Linked DNA regions of Homo sapiens. The protein of the gene in region 1 purifies or fractionates together with the protein of each later gene. This does not show direct contact. Each region holds a gene or a part of one and is shown on either strand. Other genes may lie near its edges.

Region 1 (3,268 bases):
CTGGTGACCCCAGGGTGCGCCTCCCATGGGCACCCACCCAGTTTGCAGGGCTGGGCCTGAGACCGCCACTTACTGGTGGGGAAGCTGAGGCCCAGGGAGTGAGAAAGCAGGGTGCAGCTCTAGATTTGTGAACTGGCTCAGCCGCATGCTGGCACAGTGGCCTTGGGAAGGCCCCTCAGGGTCCCTGTGGCCCCTCGGGCTGAGGGGGATCCCTGGCTGGGCCGGGTGGCGAGGCTGAGGGGTGTGGGGCGTGCCCGTCCCTCCAAGCCAGGCCCTTCTCCCCCAGATGACCTACTCCCTGACTCGGTTCGCCATCTACGAGACTGTGCGGGACCGTGTGGCCAAGGGCAGCCAGGGGCCTCTCCCCTTCCACGAGAAGGTGTTGCTGGGCTCCGTCAGCGGTGAGCTGCCGGGCGGGAGGGGGAGGGGCGCGGGGTGGTCAGGTCGGCCGAGGACGCCGTGTGTCAGCACGGCTCATCTCTGGGGTTTGTGTCACCGCAGGTTTAGCTGGAGGCTTCGTGGGGACGCCCGCAGACTTGGTCAACGTCAGGTTGGTGTTCCCCCACCCCACCTGCAAGGCCAGGGGCTTTCTTGTCCCCAGACATGCCAGGGCCTGCCAGGGCTGCTTGCAGGGTGGGGTCAGCCTGGAATAAGCCACTGAGACCCTGGTGTCCTGGGCATAGGAGGGTGGGTGTCCCTGAGCCCCGGCGTGCCCTGTCCTGTGGGCCCCGCTGACCAGCGTGAGCTCCCCTGTGCTGCCAGGGCTGCCCATGCCCCTCGGCCCGCCCGCCCCTCCCGCCACCTGCTTCTGTTTCAGGATGCAGAACGACGTGAAGCTGCCCCAGGGTCAGCGGCGCAAGTGAGTCATGGGCGGCCTTCTCGGGGTGGTTGAGGTGCAGGAGGCTCGGGCGGGAGCGGACCCCTGGCTGCTCTGCCGTGACCCAGCTGAGGCTCCAGCAGGCCGAGGTGCCTGCACGGTCCATGGAGGGTCCTGACGGCTGTTCTGGACTCGGGGGTGTCACTCTGCGCCCCCAGGACCTTTGGGTTCTTCCTGTGGGGAGAGCCTTGTTGGATTGGGGGCTGGGCCTGTTTGCACCCCAGGGTGGTGAGTGCGGAGGCGAACGCCCCAGGCATGGAGAGAGCGCATGCAACAGAAACGCCCGAAGGAGGCGCTGCCTCCCTGCCCAGCTCAGGGCAGCTGTGCCCTCCTGCCACGGCCTGGGGTCTTTCCAGGGCCCGGGGTCCGCTCCAACTGCAGTGTGAGCCACTTCCCCCGCCCCTTCCAAGGACCCCTGGGGAGTTCTGGCTTCTAGCTGTGCACACAGACTGTGTTCCCCCAGGACCCCGGGGGCTGGCGGGCAGGAGGCCTGCATGCTAGGAGCGGTGCCCAGCCAGGGACTCTGTTGGAAACGATGGAACCTCCTCCCTGAGGGCCGGGCGGGGCGGGCGAGGTGGCTGTGGGACGTCAGGACCAGCTTCATGTTCCCAGGGAGAGATCTTCAGGCCCATGAGGCCTCTGCTTCCTCGAGAACCCCCGGCCTGCCTCGGGGCCTGGGAGGACCCTCTGTGGGAGCCGGTGGTCAGGGGGAGTCTCATGTGGTCATTCTGTGTCCCCGGCAGCTACGCCCATGCGCTGGATGGCCTGTACCGCGTAGCTCGTGAAGGTGAGGGGCAGGTGCTGTGCACAGGCAGGGTTCTGGGGGGCAGGCAGGGTGGGCAGCGCTGTAGAAGACTGGGCGCTGAGGGATTTGGGCCAGGTGCCTGGCCTCACCCCTTGCCTCACCCCTTGCCTCACCCCTTCCTTGTGCAGAGGGTCTCAGGAGACTGTTCTCGGGTGCAACCATGGCATCCAGCCGAGGGGCCTTAGTCACTGTGGGCCAGGTAGGCCTCCTGCGTGGGGTGGGTGTGGGCAGTGCCTGTGACCACTGACCTCCATCTTCAGAGGGGCCATAGAACAAGGCACTGGGCGCCAAAACCCTCCTGGGGAGCCACCAGCTGTGACCTTGTGGGGCAGGGTGGGGGGCACGGGTGGGTCAGGGCTGCAGCCTGTGAAGGACCTCGGGCAGGTGCCTCCCCTGTCTGGGCCTCACGGACGGACAGACGGAGCAGGTGCTTGGCCATTGCCAGGTGGTGTCGCCTGGGGCCCTGTGTGCTTTCCCCAAGCTGGGGTCCCCCCTACAGCCCTGACCGCCCTTGTGCCCCTGCAGCTGTCCTGCTACGACCAGGCCAAGCAGCTGGTCCTTAGCACCGGGTACCTCTCTGACAACATCTTCACTCACTTTGTCGCCAGCTTTATTGCAGTAAGTGGCCGGCATGGCTAGGGTGGGCGTCCCTGGGCCGGCCTTGGGCGCTGAGGGCACCCAGGATGGGGCGAGGGCTGGGGGAGGCGGGGGCCTTGGGCATCTGGCAGTGCCCCCTGGGGCTCATAAGTGGGGTGCCAGGGCTTTGGGAGCTCATGGGTCAGCCTGGTGCCCCCGCCAGCATGTTCCTGGCCCGCCCTAGGAGTCAGGTGGAGGTTCTGGCACGTGGGTGGGATTCGGCGATGGTGCCTGGCGTACCTGACAGGCCGCTGGTGACGAGCCCCCTCCTCAGGGTGGATGTGCCACGTTCCTGTGCCAGCCCCTGGATGTGCTGAAGACTCGCCTGATGAACTCCAAGGGGGAGTATCAGGTGAGTGGGGCCCTGCCTGTGCAGTTGGGCTGCACAGCCCAGCGAGTCCCCTCACCTCTCCGGGGGGTGGACACTCGCACTGGGGACCCGGGGAAGGGTGTCCCTCCCTTCTAGTTGCCTGTCTCTGCACAGCACTTGCCTTGGGAGAGGGTTGTGCCTTTGAATGCCTTTGCCTTGTTTTTGTTTTTAGAGAAGACTTCTTGGCCCGGCGCAGTGGCTCATGCCTGTAACCCCAGCACTTTGGGAGCCTGAGGCAGGCAGACTGCTTGAGTCTAGGAGTTCAAGACCAGCCTGGGCAACATACTGAAACCCTGTCTCTACCAAAATTACAAAAATTAGGGGCCAGGTGCGGTGGCTCATGCCTATCATCCCAGCACTTTGGGAGGTCGAGGCAAGCAGATCACCTGAGGTCAGGAGTTCAAGACCAGCCTGGCCAACATGGTGAAACCCCCTCTCTACTAAAAATACAAAAAATTGGCTGGGTGTGGTGGCGTGCGCCTGTAATCCCAGCTACTCGGGAGGCTGAGGCAGGAGAATCGCTTGAACCTGGGAGGCGGAGGTTGCAGTGAGCCGAGATCACACCATTGCACCCCAGCCT
Region 2 (2,925 bases), on another chromosome or scaffold:
AGGGTAAGTAATATTTTCATGCAATATTTTAAAAGTTCAAAATTAATGCCAACATCCATGAACGACAAATAAAACTCAAAATTTAAAATCCAGACAGGATCCACCTTGCTTTGCAGGCCTCCCCTCCCTGGCTGGCTCTGGTCTGGGCCCTGCACACGTTGGGGAGGCCCAAAGACAACCCAGAGGAGCCTGGCATAACCAGCAGGGCTCAGCATGGATGGGACTGGGGTAAAATCAGGGCTTCTGAGCATGACTCCAAGAGTGTGAGGTCCCCAGAGAAAGTGGCTTAGGGAGGTAGTGGGATGTGGAGAGTGAAACACTCTTCAGAGAAAAATTAGCTAAGCAACAAGAGCTAATACTTTGTTCTGCAGAGAGAGAGAAGTCCAACTCTTGGGCTCGAGATGATGAGAAATAAAGTATTTCCCAGAAACCTCGGACCCTCACTCAACTCCTTCGAGGCTTGTCTCTGTCTGCAACCTACAGCCTGACTGTGCAGCCTGGAAAGCTTCTTTTTTTATAGAAGAACAAGAAAGAATTTTAGTGATTTGCAGTTAGTTTATTGAAATGGAAATGAATTTGAGGTTTCAACAGTTGTCTAGCAGTTTCCACATAAAAAGACAACACAAGAAAGAAAAGTGGTTTCTAGCAATCAACAGATGAGTTCTGGCCATAGTCTGTAGCCCTCTGAGCCAAACGCCTTGGGTAAAGTTAATTACTCTTCATATTACACCAAATGCTGTCGTACACTGTATGCTGGAAAACAAAAGCAGGTCACTTAGGTTTGCAAATTTCACTTATTAAATCAAATATTAAAACTTGTCTTCTTGTTTTCTTGCATTTGTCCACAAACAGCTAACTCTCAGGAGGATTTGCAGTGGAAGCAAAGCCAGCATCCCCTCTCCATTTATTCTGTTATCTAGGAGACACTTCATAATGCCAAACAGGGGCCAGGGTTGTAGGATCTCTTCCCTACCAGTGATCCATGTAATACTTTTTTTCTCCAAAAATTCTATCCTTTGAAATAACTTATCCAATAAATATGCTGCATATACTATTTGTTGAAGACCTGATCATTTGGACTGTTTCTGATACCACTTTTACAACACAGAATTATTAAAAAATCTCAGCTCAGATACAAGAATGTGATGGTTTTGAGTTGCTGCACAGGCATAAAAGGTAGAAATGTTGTAACAGTCTGAGACTCTTCACCATTACCTTTGAGGCCTATGAAATATTGGAGCTGGGCTGGGTGGGATGGCTCATGCCTGTAATCCCAGCACTTTGGGAAGCCAAGGAGGGCAGATTGCTTGACCCCAGGAGTTTAAACCAGCCTGGACAATATGACAAAATGCCATCTCTACAAAAAAAAAAATATATATATATATATGTGTATATATGTGTATATATGTATATATGTGTATATATGTGTATATATGTATATATGTGTGTATATATGTATATATGTGCATATATGTGTACATATATGCATGTATATGTGCACATATATGTGTACATATGTGTACATATGTGTGTACATATGTGTGTATATATGTGTGTGTGTATATATATGTATATATATGCCAGGTGTGTTAGTGTGCACCTGTAGTCGCAGCTACTCAGGAGGCTGAAGCGGGAGGATCACTTGAGCCCAGGAGATGGAGGCTGCAGTGAGCTGTGATTGTACCACTGCATTCCAGCCTGGGCAAAAGAGCAAGACTCTGTCTCAAAAACAAAAACAAAGACAAAAAAACGGAAACAAGAAACACTGGAGTTTTACAATATGAATGATTAATCTGAGGGGTTTTTTTGGTTTGTTTAGGATTTTTGTTTGTTTGTTTGTTTTTGAGATGGAGTCTTACTCTGTTGCCCAGGCTGGAGTGCGGTGGCACTATCTTGGCTCACTGCAATCTCTGCCTCCTGGCTTCAAGTAATTCTTCTGCCTCAGCCACCCAAGCAGCTGGAATTACAGGTGTGCGCCACCACGCCTAGCTAATTTTTGTATTTTTAGTAGAGACAGGGTTTCAGCATGTTGGCCAGGCTGGTCTTGAACTCCTGACCTCAAGTGATCTGCCCGCCTTGGCCTCCTAAAGTGCTGGGATTACAGGTATGAGGGATGCACCTGGCTAATCTGAGTTTTTAAAGAAAAAAATGATTCAACCATCCCAAATTGCAGTTAATATTTATTTTTATCCTTGAGCATTTGATATATCTTTACATTTTTTATTATGGAATGTTTTAAATAAAATTTTAGGGTATTAAATAAATTCTTAAAAAAAAAATGTAATCCCAGCACTTTGGGAGGCTGAAGCGGGCAGATCACCTGAGGTCAGGAGTTTGAGACCAGCCTGGCCAACATGGTGAAACCCCATCTCTACTTAAAATACAAAAATTAGCAGGCTGTGGTGTTGTGTGCCAGTAATTCCAGCTACTCCGAAGACTGAGGCAGGAGAATCACTTGAACTCAGGAGCCGGAGATTGTAGTGAGCCGAGATCGTGCCATTGCACTCCAGCCTGAGCAACAAGAGCTAAACTCCATCTCGAAAAAAACGAAAAACAAAAAACAAAACTCGTAACCAACACATCTTTATAAACAGACAGAAATACTCCTTGTTATAACCACTGACTTTTGTTTTAAACAATTCTAGCACTCGTGCTGTTTCATACCCATAATCTGCACTTCCCACTTCATGAGGCACTTAATTAAGTGGTGCATGACTTCCAGTCATGTATGCTAACAAATCTTGGTTGCTTGGACTTGCATTTTAAATTCTTTATTTTAGGCCGGGAGCAGTGGCTCACACCTGTAATCCCAGCACTTTGGGAGGCCGAGGCGGGCAGATCACCTGAGGTCAGGAGTTCAAGACCAGCCTGGCCAACATGGTAAAATCTCATCTCTACTAAAAATACAAAAATTAGCTGGGCATG

The links. The genes of interacting proteins can lie anywhere in the genome.
Region 2: the proteins of SLC25A10 (region 1) and SCGB2A1 purify together in Homo sapiens (affinity purification with mass spectrometry; 2 studies listed by BioGRID and IntAct, with this or other methods). This does not show direct contact.

The regions. Positions count from the first base shown.
Region 1 is NC_000017.11:81,715,192-81,718,459, forward strand, and holds part of SLC25A10 (mitochondrial dicarboxylate carrier), read left to right. Parts: intron 1-286; coding exon 287-401; intron 402-501; coding exon 502-550; intron 551-817; coding exon 818-859; intron 860-1,620; coding exon 1,621-1,664; intron 1,665-1,810; coding exon 1,811-1,881; intron 1,882-2,207; coding exon 2,208-2,300; intron 2,301-2,565; coding exon of another isoform or gene 2,566-2,592; coding exon 2,593-2,670; intron 2,671-2,860; coding exon of another isoform or gene 2,861-2,977; exon of another isoform or gene 2,978-3,153; intron 3,154-3,268. UniProt on the Homo sapiens protein: Catalyzes the electroneutral exchange or flux of physiologically important metabolites such as dicarboxylates (malonate, malate, succinate), inorganic sulfur-containing anions, and phosphate, across mitochondrial inner membrane.
Region 2 is NC_000011.10:62,211,554-62,214,478, reverse strand, and holds the end of SCGB2A1 (mammaglobin-B precursor), read right to left. Parts: intron 754-2,925; coding exon 709-753; 3' UTR 536-708; downstream 1-535. UniProt on the Homo sapiens protein: May bind androgens and other steroids, may also bind estramustine, a chemotherapeutic agent used for prostate cancer. May be under transcriptional regulation of steroid hormones.